4 linked regions of the Homo sapiens genome follow. The protein of the gene in region 4 purifies or fractionates together with the protein of the main gene of each other region. This does not show direct contact. Each region holds a gene or a part of one and is shown on either strand. Other genes may lie near its edges.

What was found. Proteins that work in one complex are often made in the same cells at the same time.
Region 1: the proteins of HCK (region 4) and PRPSAP2 purify together in Homo sapiens (affinity purification with mass spectrometry; one large-scale study listed by BioGRID and IntAct). This does not show direct contact.
Region 2: the proteins of HCK (region 4) and IVNS1ABP purify together in Homo sapiens (affinity purification with mass spectrometry; one large-scale study listed by BioGRID and IntAct). This does not show direct contact.
Region 3: the proteins of HCK (region 4) and EVL purify together in Homo sapiens (pull-down; one study listed by IntAct). This does not show direct contact.

Annotation. Positions count from the first base shown.
Region 1 is NC_000017.11:18,927,631-18,931,130, reverse strand, and holds part of PRPSAP2 (phosphoribosyl pyrophosphate synthase-associated protein 2), read right to left. Parts: intron 2,321-3,500; coding exon 2,174-2,320; intron 592-2,173; coding exon 433-591; 3' UTR 1-432. UniProt on the Homo sapiens protein: Seems to play a negative regulatory role in 5-phosphoribose 1-diphosphate synthesis.
Region 2 is NC_000001.11:185,295,888-185,298,065, forward strand, and holds the end of IVNS1ABP (influenza virus NS1A-binding protein), read right to left. Parts: coding exon 2,148-2,178; 3' UTR 501-2,147; downstream 1-500. UniProt on the Homo sapiens protein: Involved in many cell functions, including pre-mRNA splicing, the aryl hydrocarbon receptor (AHR) pathway, F-actin organization and protein ubiquitination.
Region 3 is NC_000014.9:100,127,922-100,131,421, forward strand, and holds part of EVL (ena/VASP-like protein), read left to right. Parts: intron 1-597; coding exon 598-827; intron 828-1,641; coding exon 1,642-1,763; intron 1,764-2,410; exon of another isoform or gene 2,411-2,539; intron 2,540-2,715; exon of another isoform or gene 2,716-3,500. UniProt on the Homo sapiens protein: Ena/VASP proteins are actin-associated proteins involved in a range of processes dependent on cytoskeleton remodeling and cell polarity such as axon guidance and lamellipodial and filopodial dynamics in migrating cells.
Region 4 is NC_000020.11:32,058,492-32,062,578, reverse strand, and holds part of HCK (tyrosine-protein kinase HCK), read right to left. Parts: intron 1-4,087. UniProt on the Homo sapiens protein: Non-receptor tyrosine-protein kinase found in hematopoietic cells that transmits signals from cell surface receptors and plays an important role in the regulation of innate immune responses, including neutrophil, monocyte, macrophage and mast cell functions, phagocytosis, cell survival and proliferation, cell adhesion and migration.

The sequences.
Region 1 (3,500 bases), on a different chromosome or scaffold from region 4:
ACAAAAGCATCTCTAAAAATGTCATTTACTGGACTTGACAGTATAATCTTTTCGGCTTTTCAATTGCAGGTATCATACAGATCATTTTATTTTATTAACTTTTTAAGCACTTGGCTCAAGCAACTTTGGAAGAAGGCTTTGTGAGCTTACAAATCTTATTCCAAGTGTTATTTTTTAAACAGTTACAACTAAAACGAGGTCTTACCTTTTCAAAAGAGGAGAATAAAGTTTTTCTTTTATAAAAATTGCTCCCCAAACTCACAAACACCCAAACCGACATAAAAAGTTGGTCTATCTTCTTAGGAATCAATAAGAAGTGAGGTTACAGGGGAGAGGGAGGAACAAGCATGACGGTTCCTGTGAAATCCATCCCACCGAGCAGTCACTCTTATGTTTCCAGTTTGGCCCTCGGGAGTTTTCCTAAAGGAAAACTCAGTCATCTAAGCCTATGTTTCTGAAAAGGTAGGACATGGACTCCCCATTGTGGATCCGACGGATCGCCTCTGAAAGGATCATGCTGATATCCACAGTTTTAATCTTGGGGCACTGGAGCTTCTGGACTTCATGTGGAATTGTATTGGTGACCACCACCTGTGAAGCAAAAGAAAAAAAACCACAGCATCAGAAAGCCAAGTAGCTTCATGGTTTGATCTGGAAATGTGACAGCTTCTCAAATCTGAGGCTTGCCACGACAGGAAAACACAGTGGATCTATGTCTCAAGTCAATGTTTCAATTATTTATTTATTTATTTATTTTTAGACGGAGTCTTGCTCTGTCGCTCAGCCTGGAGTGCAGTGATGCCATCTCAGCTCACTGCAAGCTCTGCCTCCTGGGTTCATGCCATTCTCCTGCTTCAGCCTCCCAAGTAAGCTGGGACGACAGGCGCCCGCCACCACGCTCAAGTAATTTTTTTGTATTTTTAGTAGAGACGGGGTTTCACCGCGTTAGCCAGGATGGTCTCGACCTCCTGACCTCATGATCCACCGGCCTCGGCCTCCCAAAGTGCTGGGATTACAGGCGTGAGCCACCGCGCCCAGCCTGTGTTTCTTAGGTTAAGATTTGATAACCTCACACCCACTAGGATAGGTATGGCAAAAAAGATAATAACAAGTACTGGAGGGATGCAGAGAAACTGGAGCCCCCCCCCAACTCACGGCTGTGGGAATGTAAAATGGCGCAGCTGCTTTGAAAAACAGTCTGGCAGCTCCTTGAAAGTTTAAACATGAAGTTACTGTATGACCTGGCAGTTCTAAACCTAGGTACGTATCCAAGAGAAGAGAAAACACATGTCCACACAAAAACTTGTACACAAATGTTTACTGCAGCACCATTCATAAGTTAAAAAGTAGAAAAAAAATTTTTTCTATCAACATGAAATACGAAGAGAGAGACAAAATGTGGACTATCCATGTAACACAGCATTATTTGATCATAAAATGAAGTATTGATTCATGCTCCAACATGGATGAACCTTGAAAATATTATGTTGAGTGAAGACAGCCAGACACAAAAGACCACACATTGTATAATCTCATTTATATGAAATGTCCAGAACAGGCAAATCTAGAGAGACAGAAAGCAGATTAGTGGTTCCCAGGGACTAATGGCAGTGAGAGAAAATGTGAAGTGACAGCTAATGGGTATGGGGTTCCTTTCTAGGAAGAAGAAAATGTTCTAAAACCAACTATGGTAATGACTGCACAACTCTGAACATTCTAAAAACCAATGAGTTGTACACATTATTATTATTATTATTATTATTATTATTATTTGAGACAAGAGTCTCATTCTGTCACCCAGGCTGGAATGCAGTGGCACAATCTCGGCTCACTGCAGCCACTGCCCTCTGGGTTCCAGTGATTCTCTTGCCTCAGCCTCCCAAGTAGCTGGGATTACAGGTGTGTGCCACCACGCCCGGCTAATTTTTGTATTTTTAGTAGAGACGGGGTTTCACCCTGTTGGCCAGGCTGGTCTCCAACTCCTGACCTCAGGTAATCCACCTGCCTCGGCCTCCCAAAGTGCTGGGATTACAGGCGTGAACCACTGCACCCAGCCCTTGAATCGTTTCTCAGCCACAAAAGATCTCAGTCTTGTCCTGACTCTCTGTAACTAAAGATCAAGATGTGCCAAAAGCCCAGGCAGCTGTACCCACACACACCCAGACCCTGTTACCTCATCAATGGCAGACTCTTCAATCCGCCGGGGGGCGTCAGAAGACAACAAGCCATGAGTTGCCATCACAAAGATCTTATATGCACCTCTTTCCTTCAGGGTCTCTGCTGCAGCAAGAAAGCTGTCAACATCATCAATGATGTCATCCTGCCAAAGCACAGATGGAAAAGAATGTATATGAGCACTTCTACAATAATAGGTTAGACAACCAGGAAAAAAAAAGGGTCTGCCTACATTTACCGTGAAAAATCTGCTCTTCCACTTGGCCTTGTGCAGACGGCATGGCCCCATGTCCCCATCACCGTGCCCCATGGCAGCCCTCCAGTACTTTCACACGAGCCTCTTCCTGCACAGCACCTGCCACTATTGGAGCTATCTCCCACCACACTCCAGGCTCCCAGGGGTAGCACTGTTTTCTGCACCATAACTGGCCAACATTGTGCTGTCACAATGCAGGTCACACCAGAAATGATGGAGGTATAATTTTCTTTTTTTGTTTTTAATGCACAGAAAAAGTGTTAAAAGATGTTTTTGACTCTGGGTAATAGAATTATGGGTGCCTCTTTCCCCCCACTTCTTCTTGCTACTTTCCTTATTTCCAAATTTTCTCCACTGAGCATATGGGAAATATGTTTTTTTACATGTTATTACAATGGAAAAAATAATAATGATTATTGTTTTTAATAATAAAATACCCAGTTCAGTGGTTTCCAATCTAGAGACTAGATTCCCAGGCTCCCAGAGTTATTTTAAACCCATTATGGCATCAAACGTTGTCTAGAGTTGAATAAATATTCGTGTCTTTATTTTACATACATATTATTACTCTTTAATTGCATACTGATGTTACTATGATCAAAAATATACATATAAAGGCCAGGCGTGGTGGCTCATGCCTGTAGTCCCAGCACTTTGGGAGGCTGAGGTGGGAGGATTGCTTGAGCTCAGGGGTTCAAGACCAGCCTGAGCAACATGACGAAACCCAGTCTCTACAAAAACAGAAAAGCAAAAATTAGCCATGCATGGAGGTACGCACCTGTAGTCCTAGCTACTTGGGAGGCTGAGGCAGGAGGATTGCTTTAGCCAGGAGGTAGAAGTTGCAGTGATCTGTGATCAAGCCACTGCACTCCAACCTGGGCAGCAGACCCAGACCATACCTCAAAAAAAATACATACACACACACACACGCTACTTTAAAAGTCCTACTAGTAAAATGGTACAGCCACTTTGGAAAACAGTTTGACAGTCTCTTATAAGAGTATATCTGCAACTACCATGCAAACCAACAACTGCATTTGTAAGTGCAATTATCCCAGAGAAATTAAAA
Region 2 (2,178 bases), on a different chromosome or scaffold from region 4:
GAAGCCAAAAATCAGAACCCTACATTTAAAGTTCATAATAAAAGATCCACCCGAGTATAACCAATAATATTTGGTTTAGATATTTTATAGCTTTTCTACCTTTTTAGGAAATTTAGAGTGTTTTATTAAGTTGACCAGAAGTGTGGTATTATCAATATTATTTTGAAACTATTCAAAAATTCCTACTGGTTAAAAAGCTTTTTTTTTTTTTTAAATTGTGCTGAGGCTATGCCATTTTCTCCCTCTCTGAAGAAAGTATGTACCTTTTAGATACAGATTAACAGTAACAAATGGCCACTGAGCACTGCTTTTTTTCCTTTATGGAAACTTCTCATGTTCATGCAGACTAGCTACAACAGCTTCTTAAAAAAAGATACTTTTTGGCCACCAAACTACCTCTTTGGCATCCAAGGTAATGCAGGAAAACTTTGACCCAAAGTATTCCCATATATTATTTGCATTAAGCATGTCACTTATGAAATGAGAAGTGATCTCAAGGATTTTAGTGCTGAATCCTCAACTAAAATTTTATTTCCTTGTGCTGAATAGAACACATACAGATCCATATTAAAAACAGTCATCATATTAGGCAAATTCAATCTGTCAATGTAGTTTTAGTCCAGAACCAAACCAGTGATAGTTAGGAATTACAGAGTTACCAACCAAACTGATTTGCTTTCCTGGTGGTTCTTTGTGTAACAGATGAGAGAAATAAAGTGGCAGAGTACCAGTGAACATTTGGAGAAAATACCTAATTATTTTCTTCCTAACCCAAGTTAGCCACTGAATAGTCATCTCAGAATAGTCACCTCATCCCAGTTGGCCCATTAGGTTCCTGTGTGCTTCATCTTCTGTGAGAAAAAAAAACCTTATATCATTCCTTATTTCAGATGTAAGATGCCAGGTGAGTTATTTTCCACAAATTTCTTAAGCTCATTACTGGAAAAAAAAATTTCTCAAAACTTTTAGTAATGAATGAGTGTACAAGCAGCAATTGGATATTAATCCCATGGTGCAAGGATTTCCTGCAAAGTACCTTTAATGTGTTTAAATCAGCAGCAAGCATTAGGACATGCTATTTTGGCCCCATAAGTTAGGTGTGTAGCACTACACATTAGACACCAAGTCATCCCAACCAATATTTATCCATATGAACAGATAAACTGAACAAAAACATAGTTCTGATAAAACCTGCATTCACAACCTAATGTAGTTTAAAGTAAATTTTTTCACAATTGAGGGCTGCTATTTAGGACTGTTTTGTTAATAATAAAAACAGGAATTATATAGAAGATAAAACACCATTTTTTACTGCTATATAATGTCTTGCTATATAAAACATACCCTCAACAAGTCAAAATATTTAAAACCAGTGTTTCAAATACCAAAAATCACAGCTATGTTACTGTTCAGTAACTCCACTCAAATAAATGTTAGTACTGCATTCTTGAAGGAAAAAAACTGCAGCCAAGGCAAGAACTCTGAAGTTTGCACTCAGAGTTTAAAAGACAGACCCCTACTCTGCAAACTGAAGACTGCCACTCTGCTTCAATAACTCCAGCCTGCCACATTTTACTTCAATTGGTAAAGCACTCTGCTGAGAATATAAAAAGTTATAAAAAGGCAATCATAAAAGATTAAATATTGGTAGGCATGTAAGCTTCCTTTTAATAAAAACAAAAATAGTCAATGTCATCTATTTAAATAAGTATCCTTTGTTATAGAGTGTTCCAGTTATTGAAAAAGGGCCCTTAAAAAACCCAACTGTCTACATCTTTAAACCCTACCCCTTTTACCCCATAGTACACATTTGAGGGAAGAGTCATTTAATGTGCAAATTGGCAAAACAAATGTGGAGGAGAGGGGACTTCTTGAAATGATGTGCCCAATCAATTCTTGGTTTATTCTTTTCCAAAAAGTAAAATAACCAAAGTCTTAAAAGTACACAAAACAGACCTTCATCTTTGCATTCCTTTCCAAATAAACCCAAAAAGTATGTACAGCATGTTTAATAGTATGCAATATGCAAAAGCTTTGTGTTGCTGTTAGCAACATCTATACCCACCCACCCTCTTTATTCACAAGTGTACCTCTACTAACCATAATTACATCACTAAGCCTGTTAGTTTGAGAGGGTCTTAAATTTGTTAAAACTGGAAAATCTTTGTATAGGGGCTC
Region 3 (3,500 bases), on a different chromosome or scaffold from region 4:
GTTTTCCTCAGCACCATACCCAGCACCTAGCACAGTGCCTGGCACAAAACAGGCTTAGGCAGCACTGGCGGAAGGGGCTGGATGGATGATGCTGGAGCCCAGCACTCGGCATTGCGCCCTGACCCATGCCCCCAGTCGGCCCTGGGACCCACAGGACCTGCCACGGCCCCCAACGACCCAAGTGTCAGTCACAGTTGGATCTTGGTGACCAACTTCTGCCTAGGGGGTGCTAGGTGCTTAGAAGGAGCAGAGAAGAGAAGAGGCACAGACTGTAACCAGACAGCTTCCTCTCCCCCTGGAAAAACATGATTGGAGCAAGAGGAAATTGCCTGGGCTCAAGGAATGTTAAGCAAATAGAGGACACCTGTGGGTCCAGCCAGGCCCCGGAGTACTGAGGACACCAGAATAGGGAATAATTGTGCCAGAGCCAAGTTCATCCCGCGGAGGCTTCCTGGATGAAGCAGGCCTGGAGCTGTTTCTCATCCCTTTGGGGAGCAGCCTGCCCCTGTCCTTCCTCCGGGGAACCTGAGCTGAGAGCAGCAGGCTTGGCCCCCAGCTGGGTGCTGGAGCTGGCTGAGCCTCACTGTTGTGTTTCAGGGCCCATCCTCCCACCAGGACATCCTTCATCTGCAGCCAGCGCCCCCGTCTCATGTAGTGGGCCTCCACCGCCCCCCCCACCCCCAGTCCCACCTCCACCCACTGGGGCTACCCCACCTCCCCCACCCCCACTGCCAGCCGGAGGAGCCCAGGGGTCCAGCCACGACGAGAGCTCCATGTCAGGACTGGCCGCTGCCATAGCTGGGGCCAAGCTGAGAAGAGTCCAACGGGTAAGAGCTCCTGTGTGCGGGGTGGGAATGGGACCGAGGGGACCCTTGTGCCATCTGCAGAGCGCTTGTGTTCCTTCCCGCATCTGCGAGACACAGCAAACTGCTTCCCTGCCCAAAGCTAGCTGGCCCTTGGCCACTTGTTCTCAAACGAGAAATCACATGGGACAGCACTTTGAAATTATGAAGTTAGCCTTTGAGCCTCACGTTGACCTTCACACGTGGGGCAAGAACTATGTCCCCCTTTAGAGATGAGGAAATTGAAGCACAAAGAGCACGAGTAATTTGCTCAAGTCACACCGTTTACAAATTGCAGATTTTGGACTCAAGCCTGGGTCTCCTGAATCTATGTCCATTGCCCTTTCCACTGTAGGAAGCTGTATGCTGGCAACTAGGTCCACCCGGCTGTTTCTTCCCTAACCCTTGCTCATATGTTCTAGAACTGTGCTTGTAAGAATAGCTCTAATACAGACCTTTGGCTTACATTGTGTTTCCTTCCCACAGGATAGTCTCTTCTCCCCTCCCTCCCTCCCTCCATGTGTCATGGCTGGTCTTGGCAAAGACACTAACCATGAGTCTGCAGGCCTGGGGAGTGTCTGCGACTTGTGTGACCTGGGCTGGTCCTTGTCCCTCTCTCGATTCTGGTTTTCTCCCCTGTGGGGTTGGAGAATAATGGACCAGATGGCCCCTGAGGCCCCTTGCAGTGCTGCTGCCATAGGATTCACACGCACACAGTCCCCTGCATCCCCTCACATCGTTGCTGCTCCTGTTCTGCCATCAGCAGCAGAATCTAAAACGCGGCCTCCTTTTTCCTCAGCCAGAAGACGCATCTGGAGGCTCCAGTCCCAGTGGGACCTCAAAGTCCGATGCCAACCGGGCAAGCAGCGGGGGTGGCGGAGGAGGCCTCATGGAGGAAATGAACAAACTGCTGGCCAAGAGGTGGGTCTCTACACCTCCCGAGACTTGGTGTGCCTAGCAGGAAGCTCCTGCCCCCGCCCCCAGCGCTGCACAGAGAATCCTCTCTTGACCCCAGAATCTTTGTTCCCTGGGTTTAGCCAAGCAGGGGAAACTGTTACTTAAGTTTTCCCTTCCCAAGGGGTTAGTCTGAAGCGCAAGCCCACAGGAGTCCTCTAAACTCCAGATCCTTCATTTTAGCTCAGCAAATATTTCCTGAAGCATCTACCATGTACCAGCCCTGTCCTGAGCAGAGATAAATGTGGAGACAATTTCAGAGATAAATGCGGGAAAAAGAACAGTCCTTGCTCTTAAGATCCTAACAGAAATAAGATGTGGCCGCAGTGGTCGAGTTTGCAGAGGACACTCTGGTGAATGTGTGGTGAAGGCACCCCATTCTCCAGGGTTCTTTATGGAGGACTCAGGAGAAGGAGTTATGAAGGGTAGGAGCCCAGAGGGCATTGCCCTGAGCGACGGAGAGAGAGTAGTTCCATCTACATCCCGGCCGGGCTCTTGGGCCTGAGACCTGGCCATGTGTGTCTGCTCGCTGCAGCGGGTGTGGCTGCAGCCTGCCATTGTGGCTCTCCGCTGTTCCCCAAATGAAACCCGAGCAGATGGGGAGATCGTCCAGGTCTTTCTCAAAAGGGATGCAAAGCTTGGATTTTATTTTTAAATATGACTTGGCATCAGGAATGTGCTCACCTTGGACTACCAATATCGTGGCTCACTTAGGCACCAGAGGGCACGGGAGTAGGCCTCACCTGCCAGAACAGAGGAAGCTGCAGCGGGGGCCCTGCTCCCTTGGTAACCCCACCTCCACCCCCTGCCACTTTGTCGCCTTCTCCTGGCCCTCCCAGCTGCCTTCCAATTGGCTGACCCAAGTGAGAACTCTGTGTGCCCAGGGTCTTCACACTGCAGTCCTAGTTCCTCTCATTACCTTCCCGTGGCTCCATGAGGATGATGCGAGATGACAGAGGCCCACAGCTGCAGGCAGCTGGTGTGGCGCTTCATGGCAGGGCCACAGCCTGGGTTTCCTGCCAAGGGGCTCTTTGCTTGCATCACAGATGGCAGGGAGGGGAGGCTCCCCGTGTGTCAGGGAGCAGCAAGGTGGATCCGCAGCACGGGCGTCTCCGGAGCCTCTACTGGGCCTGGGCGTTTGTACATCGCCAAGACAGGAGGCAGGCTTCTGAGCAGTTTCCTGTGAGAGTAAGTCCAGGTGTGTGGGGCTTACAGTGGCCACACAAAGGCGAATGGCTCCGTGGGTGAGAGAGCCGGGAGGGCTCGCAGAACGATGAGGACGTCCCGTGCTGTAAGAGGGACAGTGGGCAGAGTTAAGGTAAGGCTGGGAAGGCTGACGCCCCCTGTGCCTGGAGAGCTAGGTGTGGAGGAAATGGACCAAAAGTCAGGCTGGAAGAGGGAGCCTCCTGGTGCAGGGCATCGGGTTCCACCTCAGAGCACTCAGAGGCGAGGATGGGCCACAGAGAAATAGAAATAGTTTTGGAAAAGAAAATATGAATGCTTTCCCTAAGTCCTAGACCAAGCTGAGGGGAAGCACCTTTCTGTCTGAGAACAGGAAAAGGCCAGTATTGCCAGGAGCCAGTGAGATGCCAGATGCCGGTGGGAGAGTCAAGGCCCTCCCAAGAACAAACATGCTTTGCATAGCTCAGCAGGGATCAATCAGGTGCTCTCTGAAATCCACCTCAGTGATGGCTACTGGGTGGA
Region 4 (4,087 bases):
CACACGATGGCGAGCGACAGAGCAACACACTAAAGGAGAACTCAGGGCTTTGATCATTTGCCTGGCTGAGCCATAGGGCTGGCTCTGAGATGCCTGTGTTCCAAACACTTATTCAACCACATATAAAACTCATAGCATGTTCAATGTTACTCTTGGGACACTTGGTCAATTTCAGAATTCCAGAGCAACTGTGAACCTTCTTGGAATGATTTTATCTCTAAGGCAGGCAGGAGGCAGGGCAGTTTGAAAATAGAGCATGAGATTTGAAGTCAGATAGAGCTGGGTTTGAATCTGCATTCTGCCTCTTACAAATAAGTGAGCCTTTAAAAATGTAAGTCATCCTGGGCATGGTGGCTCACACCTGTAATCCCAGCACTTTGGGAGGCTGAAGCGGGCAGATCACCTGAGGTCAGGAGTTGGAGACCAGCCTGACCAACATGGTGAAACCCCATCTCTACTAAAAATACAAAAATTAGGCGGGCATGGTGGCGCATGCCTGTAATCCCAGCTACTTAGGAGGCTGAGGCAGGAGAATCGCTTGAACCCCAGAGTCAGAGGTTGCAGGGAGCCGAGGTCGCACCACTGCAGTCCAGCCTGGGCAACAGAGTGAGAGTCCGTCTCAAAAAAAAAAAAAAAAAAAAAGGTAAGTCAGATCGCATTCCTTCTCTGCTCAACCCCCACCCAGGGTTTCCGTCTCACTTGGAGTAAAAGCCCAAGTCCTCTCCAAGGTGGGTAAGACCTCCACAATCTGATCCCCTCCTCAGCCTCTCAGATCTGTCTCCTTCTAACTCTCCCTTGATCATTCCACTGGAGCCCTCCTTGCTCTTCTTCAACTCACCAACTGTGCTTATACCTCTGGGGCATTGCATGTTCTGTTTCTGGAATATTCTTCACCCAGAAAGGCTCCATCACTTCCTTCAGTCTCTCTAATGATTGTACCTTCTCAGAGCAACCTTCCCTCATCACCCTGGCAAAGACAGGATCCTCTGCCCCCCAACTCCCATCACTGTCTAGCCTGTTCCCAGCTAGTCTTCATGCCCCTAACCACCTCTTAAACGTGGTGGCCATGAGGATGCACCTCTCAGATCTCCAACTGCAGGAGTACGACTGGAGAAATTGATCAGCGGCTCAGCTGCTGTGCTCTGAAGTCCATCACTGCTCTCATGGGCTGCTCCCAGCCAATGACTGAGTGTGGCAGGGAGACCGAAGCCCACCCATGTCTGGGGGACCTCTGTCAAGAGACTTTGGCCAAGGGCTCCTTAACAGCCTTGACAAACTTTCCTTAGAATGGCACGGCAGCTGGGCGCAGTGGCTCACGCCTGTAATCCCAGCACTTTGGGAGGCCAAGGCGGGCGAATCACAAGGTCAGGAGTTCAAGACCAGCCTGGCCAACATGGTGAAACCCCGTCTCTACTAAAAATACAAAAATTAGCTGGGCGTGGTGGCGCATGCTTGTAATCCTAGCTACTCAGGAGGCTGAGGAAGGAGAATTGCTTGAACCCGGGAGGCGGAGGTTGCAGTGAGCCAAGACTGCGCCACTGCACTCCAGCCTGGGCAACAGAGCAAGACTCTGTCTCAAAAAAAACAAAATAAAACAGAACAACAACTACAAAAAAAAAATACGGCATGGCAGTCCAAGACACGTCCTCCTTTTATTCCTTTCTTCTTCCTTCCTTTCTTCCTTCCTTTTCTTTTTCATTAGTGGACAGAGGTACCCCACTATCTGATGGCTCTCCTGTCCTCTCCTGGTTTCTTCCCATTTTCTCTCATAGCCATTTCCTCCAATAAATTTCTTGCACATTTAATGCTATGGGAGTCTGCTTCTCAAAGGACTTGAACTATCTCAGGGTATGCTGAAGTTAAGTATGAAAAAGAAAAGAAAAAATAAAAAAGGACCTGGACTAATGCACCTAATGTATTACCTGTTGATTTGTTTATTATCCATCTGACCAATAGGATATGAGATATGACAGTAAGGTCCCCATTTAGTCTGCTGGATGCCCCCAGATTTCCCGTCTAAACAATAGCTATAAATAGGCCAGGTGCAATGGCTCATGCCTGCAATCCCAGCACTTTGGGAAGCTGAGGCAGGCGGATCACCTGAGGTCAGCAGGCGGATCACCTGATGTCAGGAGTTTGAGACAAGCCTGGCCAACATGGTGAAACCCTGTCTCAACCAAAAATACAAAAATTAGCTGGGCGTGGTAGTGGGTGCCTGTAATCCCAGCTACTTGGGAGGCTAAGGCAGGAGAATTGCTTGAACTCAAGAGGCAGAGGTTGCAGTGAGCCAAGATTGCCCCACTGCACTCCAGCCTGGGCAACAGAGTGAGATCCTGTCTCAAAACAAAAACAAACAAACAAAAAGAAAACCAATAGCTATAAATATATGTTTAAACTGAGAAGGGTGATGCACATTTGCTCGCTTCTGCTGGGAGAGGAGCAGTCTTTCCTTGGCTGCCGCTGAGTGGAAGTTTCCCCCTCCAGACAGGACATGGTGGCCAGTTCACCACCAGGGCCACTTTTCACTTTAACCTGCCGTGGTACTGAGAGATCAGCTGCCCCCAAACCTGTCCTCCACAAATGGAATCCTCAAAGCCTCAGTAACACAGGCGCTGATCCTTTTACATTTTTTTTATAATTGACAAAGCTCCAGGTCTCAGTTTCTTTTATTTTTTGAAGGGTATGTATTTTATTTTTAAAATGACCTTTTACCACCTAGTAAAACATTAGTGCATCCTTCTTGTTAAAAATTAAACCATTAGAGGCCAGGTATGGTGGCTCACATCTGTAATACCAGCACTTTGAGAGGTCAAGACAGGAGGATCGTTTGAGCCGAGGAATTTAAGACCAGCCTGGGCAACATGGCAAGACCCCATTTCTACCAGAATTTTTTTTTATTAGCTGGGTGTGGTGGCATGTGCCTGTGATCCCAGCTACTCAGGAGGCTGAGGTGGGAGGATCGCTTGAGCGCAGGAGGTTGGGGCTGCATGAGCCATGATAGCATCACTGCACTCCAGCCTGGGAGACAGAGCGAGACCCTGTCTCAAAAAGAAAAAGAAAAAAAAAAGAGAGAGAGAGAGAGAAGCAAGAAAGAAGAAGAAGGAGGAGGAGGAGGAAGGGAAAGAAGAAAGAAAGAAAGAAAGAAAAAAGAAAGAAAGAGAGAGAGAGAAAGAAGAAAGGAAGGAAGAGAAGAAGAAAGTGGAGGAGGAGGAAGAGGAGGAGGAGAAGGGGGGAAGGAAAGAAGGGAAAGAAGAAAGAAAAGAAAAGAAAGGAGGGAGGGAGGGAAGGAAGGAAGGAAGATTAAAACATTACAGATACATTTAAGACACTCTTGGATTACTCATTCTATAAGCCCTCCATGGCCACCTCTTTCCCCACCCAGATATCCTCTGCCAGCATTTGGCCTCAGCCTCTGCCTCTGCATTTACACACATGTATGTTGAAGCAGAGGCTGTCAGTGCCCTGCCTCTATCACTCTGCCCTTTACCATTTCTGCACATTCTGGCTGGACTTCCAGCTGCCGGCACCTTCATCTCTTTGTCTGAGAGATTTCTCTGTGGCTATTGGTGCCTGCTCTGCCCATGGGCTTGGCAAGCCGAAAGTGCTAGAGAATTATCACATCCCCAGGAGTAGTTTTCAACAAAAGACAGGAGCGAGAACAGGGTGGACAAATACCCCGGTTCCCTCACCTCTCAAGCCTGTTCTACCCTGGCTCCCAGAGCTCCTCAGTGGGATTGAGCTCCAGGTGCCCGCAGTGGTAACTGGGCTTAGAAGACACCTTTAATGACTACCTCCTGTTCCCTGCCTCACTTCCTTACTCCCCTAGGAGGGTCTCTGGAATCAGCTCTCAAACTATTTGCATTTGAAACCTTGCCTAGGGTCTGCTTCTGGAGAAACTCAAACTAAGACATATACGCCATGATGGACTAGTGTGTGTATGTGTGTGTGTGTGTGTGTGTGTGTGTGTGTGTGTTTTGACATAAAAGGAATTGTGCTGCAGGAATCATGAGTAGTATCCTCCTCAGTTCTCCCCCTTTTTTTTTTTTTTGACAGAGTCTTGCTGTTGTCAGCCCAGGCTGGAGTGCAG